2 linked regions of the Homo sapiens genome follow. The protein of the gene in region 2 interacts with the protein of the main gene of each other region in a pairwise test. Each region holds a gene or a part of one and is shown on either strand. Other genes may lie near its edges.

Region 1 (3,750 bases), on a different chromosome or scaffold from region 2:
TCCACACAGTCTTACCATTGGTAAAGCAAATCTCACCATTTGCTTTATCATTTATTCTCTCTCCCTTTATCCCCTCTCTCCTCTGTGTGTGTGTGTGTGTGTGTATGTGTGTGTATTATATTTCCGTTTTTCTGAGCTCTTTGAGGGTAAATTACAGGCATAATGCTCTTTACCTTTAACTTTTTTTGAGATGGAGTCTTGCTCTGTCGCCCAGGCTGGGGTGCAGTGGTGCAGTGGCACGTTCTCAGCTCACTGCAAGCTCCGCCTCTCGGGTTCACGCCATTGTCCTGCCTCAGCCTCCCAAGTAACTGGGACTACAGGCGCCCACCACCACGCCCAGCTAATTTTTTGTATTTTTAGTAGAGATGGGGTTTTACTGTGTTAGCCAGGATGGTCTCGATCTCCTGACCTCGTGATCCGCCTCGGCCTCCCAAAGTGCTGGGATTACAGGTGTGAGCCACTGTGCCCGGCCAATGCTCTTTACCTTTAAAAATAAGGACATTCTCTTACATACCCATAGTACAATTTTTGAAATCTGGAAGTCAGCATTGATATAACACTATTAGCCAATTTATAGACCTTATTCAGATTTCATCAATTATTCTGATAATATTCCTTATAGGAAAAGAAAATAGTAGATTGTGAGTTTTATTTGATTGTCATGTCTTTTTAGTTTCCTTTAAAGAATGACTGAGAAATGGTTCCTTATTCTTTTATGACCTTGAAAACCTTGAAAATTTTTACGAATATGGGCCATTTATTTTGTATAATGTCCCTCAATTTGGGTTTGTTTGATGTTTCCTCATAATTCAATATAGGTTATGCATTTTTGCCTGGCATATCCCAGAAATGAAGTATCTTAGCAGAGGCATTTGATGTCAGTGTGTCCCATAATTGTGGTGTTAACTTTGATCATCTGATTAAGGTAGTGTTGACCCAGTTTTTCCACTGGAGAACTTTTTTCTGAACTCCATTGTAAAATTACTATTTTTCCTTTTGTGATTAATAATTATCTGGGGCAAACCCTTTGAGATTATGTAAATATCCTGTTTATTTTTCAAATGTTAGTCCACTAGTTTTAGCTTCCATTTATGATTTTTACCTGAATCAATCAGTTATTATTGAGATGGCTGCCCAAAGGCTGATTTTCTTAATTTTTTCTATGTGCATTCATTATGTATCTATATATTTGTTGGGAACGGTTTTCCCTATTTTTCATTTATATATGTATAGAATGATGTATTAATTTATCACTATAGATTAATGGATGGGTATTTTTATCAACCAAGATCTGGTAGTAAATGTGTTTACTGCTATTGGATCTGATTTTTTTTTTTTTTTTTTTTTTTTTGAGATGGAGTCTCGCTCTGTTACAGCCCAGGCTGGAGTGCAGTGGCATGATCTCGGATCACTGCAATCTCCCCGTCCCGGGTTCAAGCAGTTCTCTGCCTCAGCCTCCCGAGTAGCTGGGATTACAGGTGGCTGCCACCATGCCCAGCTAATTTTCTTGTATTTTTAGTAGAGATGGAGTTTCACCATCTTAGCCAGACTGGTCTTGAACTCCTGACCTCGTGATCTACCTGCCTCAGCCTCCCAAAGTGCTGGAATGTCAGGCCTGAGCCACCACGCCCAGCCTGATCTGATTATTTTTAATAATGAGAATACTGGCTGGGTGTGGTGGCTTATGTATGTCATCCCAGCACTTTGGGAGGCCGAGGTGGGCGGATCACCTGAGGTCGAGAGTTCGAGACCAGCCTGACCAACATGGAGAAACCTCATCTCTATTAAAAATACAAAATTAGCCTTTGTATTTTTGTATTTGCTTATATATGCAAAGAATCTATTCCTTCCTTTTTGGAAGGAGTCACAAGAAACTAGTAATATTGGTTACCTTTACAGAGTGAAACCTGGATGGTTGGAAATGGGAGTAGGGTGGAGACTTTTCACTTATAAATCTTTTAATTTTTTTACTGAATTAATTAAAAGTTAAAAATTCACACACTGGAGGTCTAAAATTACTGAAACACATGATCTGAATGTAAGAATTCTAATCAAACAGTTTACTTAAGTAATACCTGGGCAGATAGCCAAGATAACTTGGTTATCTTGGTAGATGACAATAGTAGAAAAATTGGTAGAAAGTTGGCAACTTTATTTATATACCATGATGTGTGTACTTTAGTCTTAATGAATATTTTGTTTTCTTTTGGCAGCATGCATATGCGCTAGAACTTCTATTTGATCAGTTGCATGAAGGAGCTAAAGCTCTTGATGTAGGATCTGGAAGTGGAATCCTTACTGCATGTTTTGCACGTATGGTAAGAGTTTTATTTCTCACTCTGGCCCCAACAGAAGAATATTATATGATTTGGCTGTATGTTTTTTTAACTAGTGGTTTTCATGTTTATTTGTTTGTTAATTCTATTAGGATAGCAGTTGGAATGAGCATCACTTAGGATTTTGTTGTTGTTGCAAGTGACAGAACATGCAACCCAAACTGGCAGAGCTAAAAGGGAGTTTATTTAGTTCATATAACAGAAAAGTCTAGGGGTGTATACGGTCTGTTGTGTGGCTGGATTTAGAAGAGCAGATGTTGTTATTGACGATAGGGTTCTCTCTGTTTCTTGATTTGGCTTTACTTTCCTCCACATGTTGGTGTCATTATCCGGTAAGCTCTACCCTTGTAATCACAAGATGGTGGCCAGTAGCTCCCAAACTACCTTCTTCCAAGTTCTGATTTGGCAGAAAAGAATAGAATAAGCCTGGTTTTCTTTTCTTTTTTTTTTTTTTTTCTTCTTAAAAACAGAGGTTTTATTGCATTTGGTCCACAGTTGGTATTTCACCTTATCTCATGGTGCAGGGACCCTGGGTAGGGGACTCTCTACAGTACTTGGTGGGGCATGTGGCTGGGGGAGACAGAGCAGTATAGCTGGTCAGGCCCAGAAGGGGAGAAGGAAGGCTGGAGGCTCCTTAAAACCTACTGAGGGACCAGACGCGGTGGCTCACACCTATAATCCCAGCACTTTGGGAGGCTTAGGCAGGCAGATCACATGAGGCCAGGAGTTCGAGACCAGCCTGGCCAACGTGGTGAAACCCCATCTCTACTAAAAATAGAAAAATTAGCCAGGCATGGTGGAGCACCTGCAGTCCCAGCTATTCAGGAGGCTGAGGCAGGAAAATCCCTTGAGCCCAGGAGGTGGAGGTGCAGTAAGCCTTGATTGCACCACTGCACTCCAGCCTGGGCAACAACAACAACAACAAAAACCTACTGAGGCACAGTGTGGGGGGTGGGCTTAGCATGGAGAGGGGGTCAGGCTTAGCCCCGACAACTCAGAATTCTACTTCCTTGTACAGGCCTCAGTTTCCCCACCGGGCCCTGGGACATGTCTGAGGGTCCCAGGGAAATCCAGTCACTCAGGAGCCTGAGATATTTAGCATCGTAGCTGGGCCCCGTCTCCCAGGGGACTCATTTCCCAGCACCCTCTCCACTGTCCCTGCCCAGAATGAGCCTGGTTTCTAAACATTCCTGCAGATTTACCAGGATGAAGGTAAAACTTCTGCATTAGAAAAAGTGCTCTTAGAAAAATAATGCCTTGTTATACTTCTGCCTTTTCTCATCAGAGTCTTATCTGGTCAATGGCTATCCAGAGTATTAACTGGGGACCCACTAATATATGTTGGAGTAAAGGTTGATCATTGCTTAGATCATCACATCAGTTTGATTTGAGAAATATCGTGCCTGGAGGACAG
Region 2 (3,750 bases):
CAGTGAGCTGAGATTGTGCCACCGTGCTCCAGTCTGGGCGACACAGCACAAGACTCCATCTCAAAAAAAAAAAAAAAAAAAAGCCAGGTGAGGTGGTGGCTCACGCCTGTAATCCCAGCACTTTGGGAGGCCAAGGTGGGTGGATCATCTGAGGTCAGGAGTTCGAGACCAGCCTGACCAACATGGTGAAATCCTGTCTCTATTGAAAATACAAAATTAGCCAGGTGTGGTGGCGCATGCCTGTAATCCCAGCTACTCAGGAGGCTGAGGCAGGAGAATTGCTTGAACCCGGGAGGCAGAGGTGGCAATGAGCCGAGATGGCATCACTGCACTCCAGCCTGGACAACAGAGCGAGACTCCCTCTCAAAAAATTAAAAAAAAAAGACCCCGTTTTTCTGGTACCCAGCAAGATCAGGGCTGTGGGTGCGTGGGACACCTCGCCTGTTCCAGTAGAGAAGAAAGCCCAGCCCCTTCCGCAGGTTGACAACATCACATATGTGGGGGGTTTTCTTACCAGGCGGCCCCGCTGGACCCTTCTCTCCTGTCTGGCCTCGGTCACCTTTAGACCCGGGGGGGCCTGCAGGCCCTGGTGGTCCTGTCTGCCCCGGGGGCCCTGGGGAGAGAAGGAGACAGGGCATCAGAACATGGTGGACCCCCAGCCTCCAGTGGCTCCAGGCCTGGCCCCCTGGGCTGTCAGCCTACGTTCCCCCAGGAGCCCTGCCTACCTGGGACTCCCTAAACAGGCAAAGGCACTCACATCACCTTGGAGCTGGTTATTACAACTTACAAACCAGCTTTGCACTTACAAACATCTATGATTCTAAGAACTGCTTTCGTTCCCATTTTCAATGTGGGGAAACTGAGGCTCAGGAAGGTTGGTCCCTTGCCCAAGCTCACACAGCCAGGCTGCAGATGAAGTTGCTTAGCTCCAGGTCCCTCTCTCACACCCTGCTGTCTCTCTGCTTAGGGTCAAGAACCGGGCTTGTGGCAAAGTGCTCCCCAACAGGTGGCCTCCGAGGAGGCCCCAGGAGGTCCTGAAGGATGGATCTTCCCAGCTACAGATCTCTAAACCCCAAGGGTGGACAAGGAGATGGAGAGGTAAGGCTTGCTGTGTGGCCAGGGGACAGCCTTTTCTCCCTCTGGCCCAGAGAGGATGCTGAAAAATGTTTGCTCAGCACCTTAGGAGGCTGAGGCAGGAAGATCACTTGAGCCCAGGAGTTTGAGACCAGCCTGGGCCACATAGTGAGACCCCATCTCTACAAAAGATACAAAAGTTAACCGGGCATAGTGGTGCACGCCTGTGGCCCCAGCTACTGGGGACGTTGAGGTGGGAGGATGGCTTGAGCCCAGGAGGTCTGGGCTGCAGTGAGCTATAATCACACCACTGCATTCCAGCTTGGCTTACAGAGCGAGACCGTCTCAGAAAAAAAAAAAAAGTTTGCTGATCTGATGAAGGGACCTGCACTGAGTCTTAGGGCCCTTTGCACTCTGCCTGCATGGGACTGTGGTATGGTGGGGAGGGCCTGGCTGGGGGCTGCTGGCCTCGGAAGAGCCCCACCTGCGCTCTGGAATCCAGGTTGGCTGCAGGTGTCACCATGTGTAGAGTGTGTGCCCCACCTGGTGGCCATTCTTGAAACTGCATTTTCCCCTGGTTGGAAAGGTCTTGCCAGGCATGCGCTTTCGTGGGCCTGGGTCCCCGGTGGGATGGGAAGCCCCTCCTCCTCCATCCCCCAAGAAAGATCTGAAGAATGTGGGCATGAGGTAACGCTCTGGGGGTGAGACCTTAGGGACAGCGGCTCGAGGGGTAGGCCGGGGGCCAGAGTGAGAGAGGTCCCCCTTCCCGTAGGAGACCTGAGCTCGGCCCTCCTCCCGCAGCCTTCAGTCCCTTTCCAAGAATGCAGGATACCCTACTCTCCTTCCCCGGCCCTGGGACTGGCCACTGGAGGCCACCTGTGTCATGCATCTCTCCTCCCTGCTCTGCCCCTGCTCCCCAACCCAGCATCAGAATAGACACTCAGAACAGAGGGCAGAGGGAGAGCGCCCCCTCCAAAGGGCTCTAAGGGCAGAGAATCATGGAGGCAAAATGCCCCCAGCTTGCTGGCTTGCTGGGTGACCCCAGGGGTGTCACTTAACTTCTCTGAGCCTCAGGTGTCTCCCCTGTAACCTCAAGGCTTCCAAGCTTTGTGTGAAGATTAAGAGTGATATCTGTAGGCTGGGTGCGCTAGCTCACACCTGTAATTCCACACTTTGGAGGCCGAGGCGGGTGGATCACTTGAGGTCAGGAGTTTGAGGCCAGCCTGGCCGACATGGTGAAACCCCGTCTCTACTAAAAATACAAAAATTAGGCTGCGTGTGCTGGCTCACACCTGTAATCCCAGCACTTTGGGAGGCCAAGGAGGGCAGATCATTTGAGGTCAGGAGTTCAAGACCAGCCTGGCCAACATGACAAAACCCCTTCTGTATTAAAAATGCAAAAAGTAGCGGGGCTTGGTGGTGCGTGCCTGTAATCCCAGTTATTAGGGAGGCTGAGGCAGGGGAATCCCTTGAGCCCAGGAGGCAGAGGTTGCAGTGAGCCGAGATCACGACACTGCACTCCAGCCTGAGTGATAGAGTGAGACTCCATGTCAAAAAAAAAAATTATATCTGTATTTGAAATATTTTCATATCTGATATGAAAATATTTAATAACTGGCACAGTGCAGATCCTGACCACTCATGGTAGACCTCAGCCTTCAACCCCTGGATTCAGCCTTATAGACAGGTGTTGTTTGCTAAATGTCCTCCAGGATAAAGCCCCACCTCAGTGTCTGGCAACCAGGAGGGCTTCATCGATTGCAACTATGATTATTACAATTGTGATTAAAGCAAAGGTAATTACAGCCCCAGGTGGCAGAGCCCAGACCAGTAGGTAGAATCTGCAGAGGGAAAATTCTTCCCCTTAACTTTAAAATGTGGCCAGGGCCAAGCATGGTGGCTCACACCTGTAAATCCCAGCACTTTGGGAAGCCGAGGCATGAGGATTGCTTAAGGCCAGGAGTTTGAGACCAGCCTGGCAACGCAGTGAGACCTCGTCTCTACTAAAAATTAAAAAAAAAAAAAAAAGCCAAGTGTGGTGGTGTGCACTCGTAGTCCCAACTACTTGGGAGGCTGAGGCAGGAGGATCACCTGAGCCTCGGAGATGAAGGCTGCAGTGAACTATGATCATACTACTGTGCTCCAGCCTCAGTGACAGAGCAATACATTGTCTCAAAATAAAATAATAAAATAAAATAAAATTGTAAAAGTGTGGCAGGAAGGCAGGGGGGCAGATGTCCTCCAATTCCAGCCAGAGAGTTCAGAGAGCAAACCCCAGAAAGAGGTGGGAAGCAGTAAGTTCCTGCTCCCTGGCCAGGCAGAATGCTGCAAAATTGAACCCAGCAAGGCTGGGCTGGGGGCCATAAGTGCAGAAGCCAAGGAGCAGGGCAGATACTGAAGACAGTAGCTGAGCTGTAAGACAATAGGGAATGGTGGGGACTGCGGCAAACTGCACAGCCTGGACTGGACCTACAGTGGCAACCCAGTAGCTGGTTGTTTCCATGAGGGACTGCCAGCCCTGATGGCCAATTTTCTCATTTTTATTTTTATAATTTTTTGTAGAGACAGGGTCTCACTATGTTGCCCAGGCTGGTCTTGAGCTCCTGGCTTCATGCAATCCTCCCACCTCAGCCTTCCAAAGTGCTGGGATTATAGGTGTGAGCCACTGCACCTGCC

What was found.
Region 1: the proteins of COL26A1 (region 2) and PCMT1 interact in binary tests that used the Homo sapiens proteins (3 or more experiments, as listed by UniProt).

Annotation. Positions count from the first base shown.
Region 1 is NC_000006.12:149,787,741-149,791,490, forward strand, and holds part of PCMT1 (protein-L-isoaspartate(D-aspartate) O-methyltransferase), read left to right. Parts: intron 1-2,213; coding exon 2,214-2,318; intron 2,319-3,750. UniProt on the Homo sapiens protein: Initiates the repair of damaged proteins by catalyzing methyl esterification of L-isoaspartyl and D-aspartyl residues produced by spontaneous isomerization and racemization of L-aspartyl and L-asparaginyl residues in aging peptides and proteins.
Region 2 is NC_000007.14:101,540,861-101,544,610, reverse strand, and holds part of COL26A1 (collagen alpha-1(XXVI) chain isoform 1 precursor), read right to left. Parts: intron 614-3,750; coding exon 515-613; intron 1-514.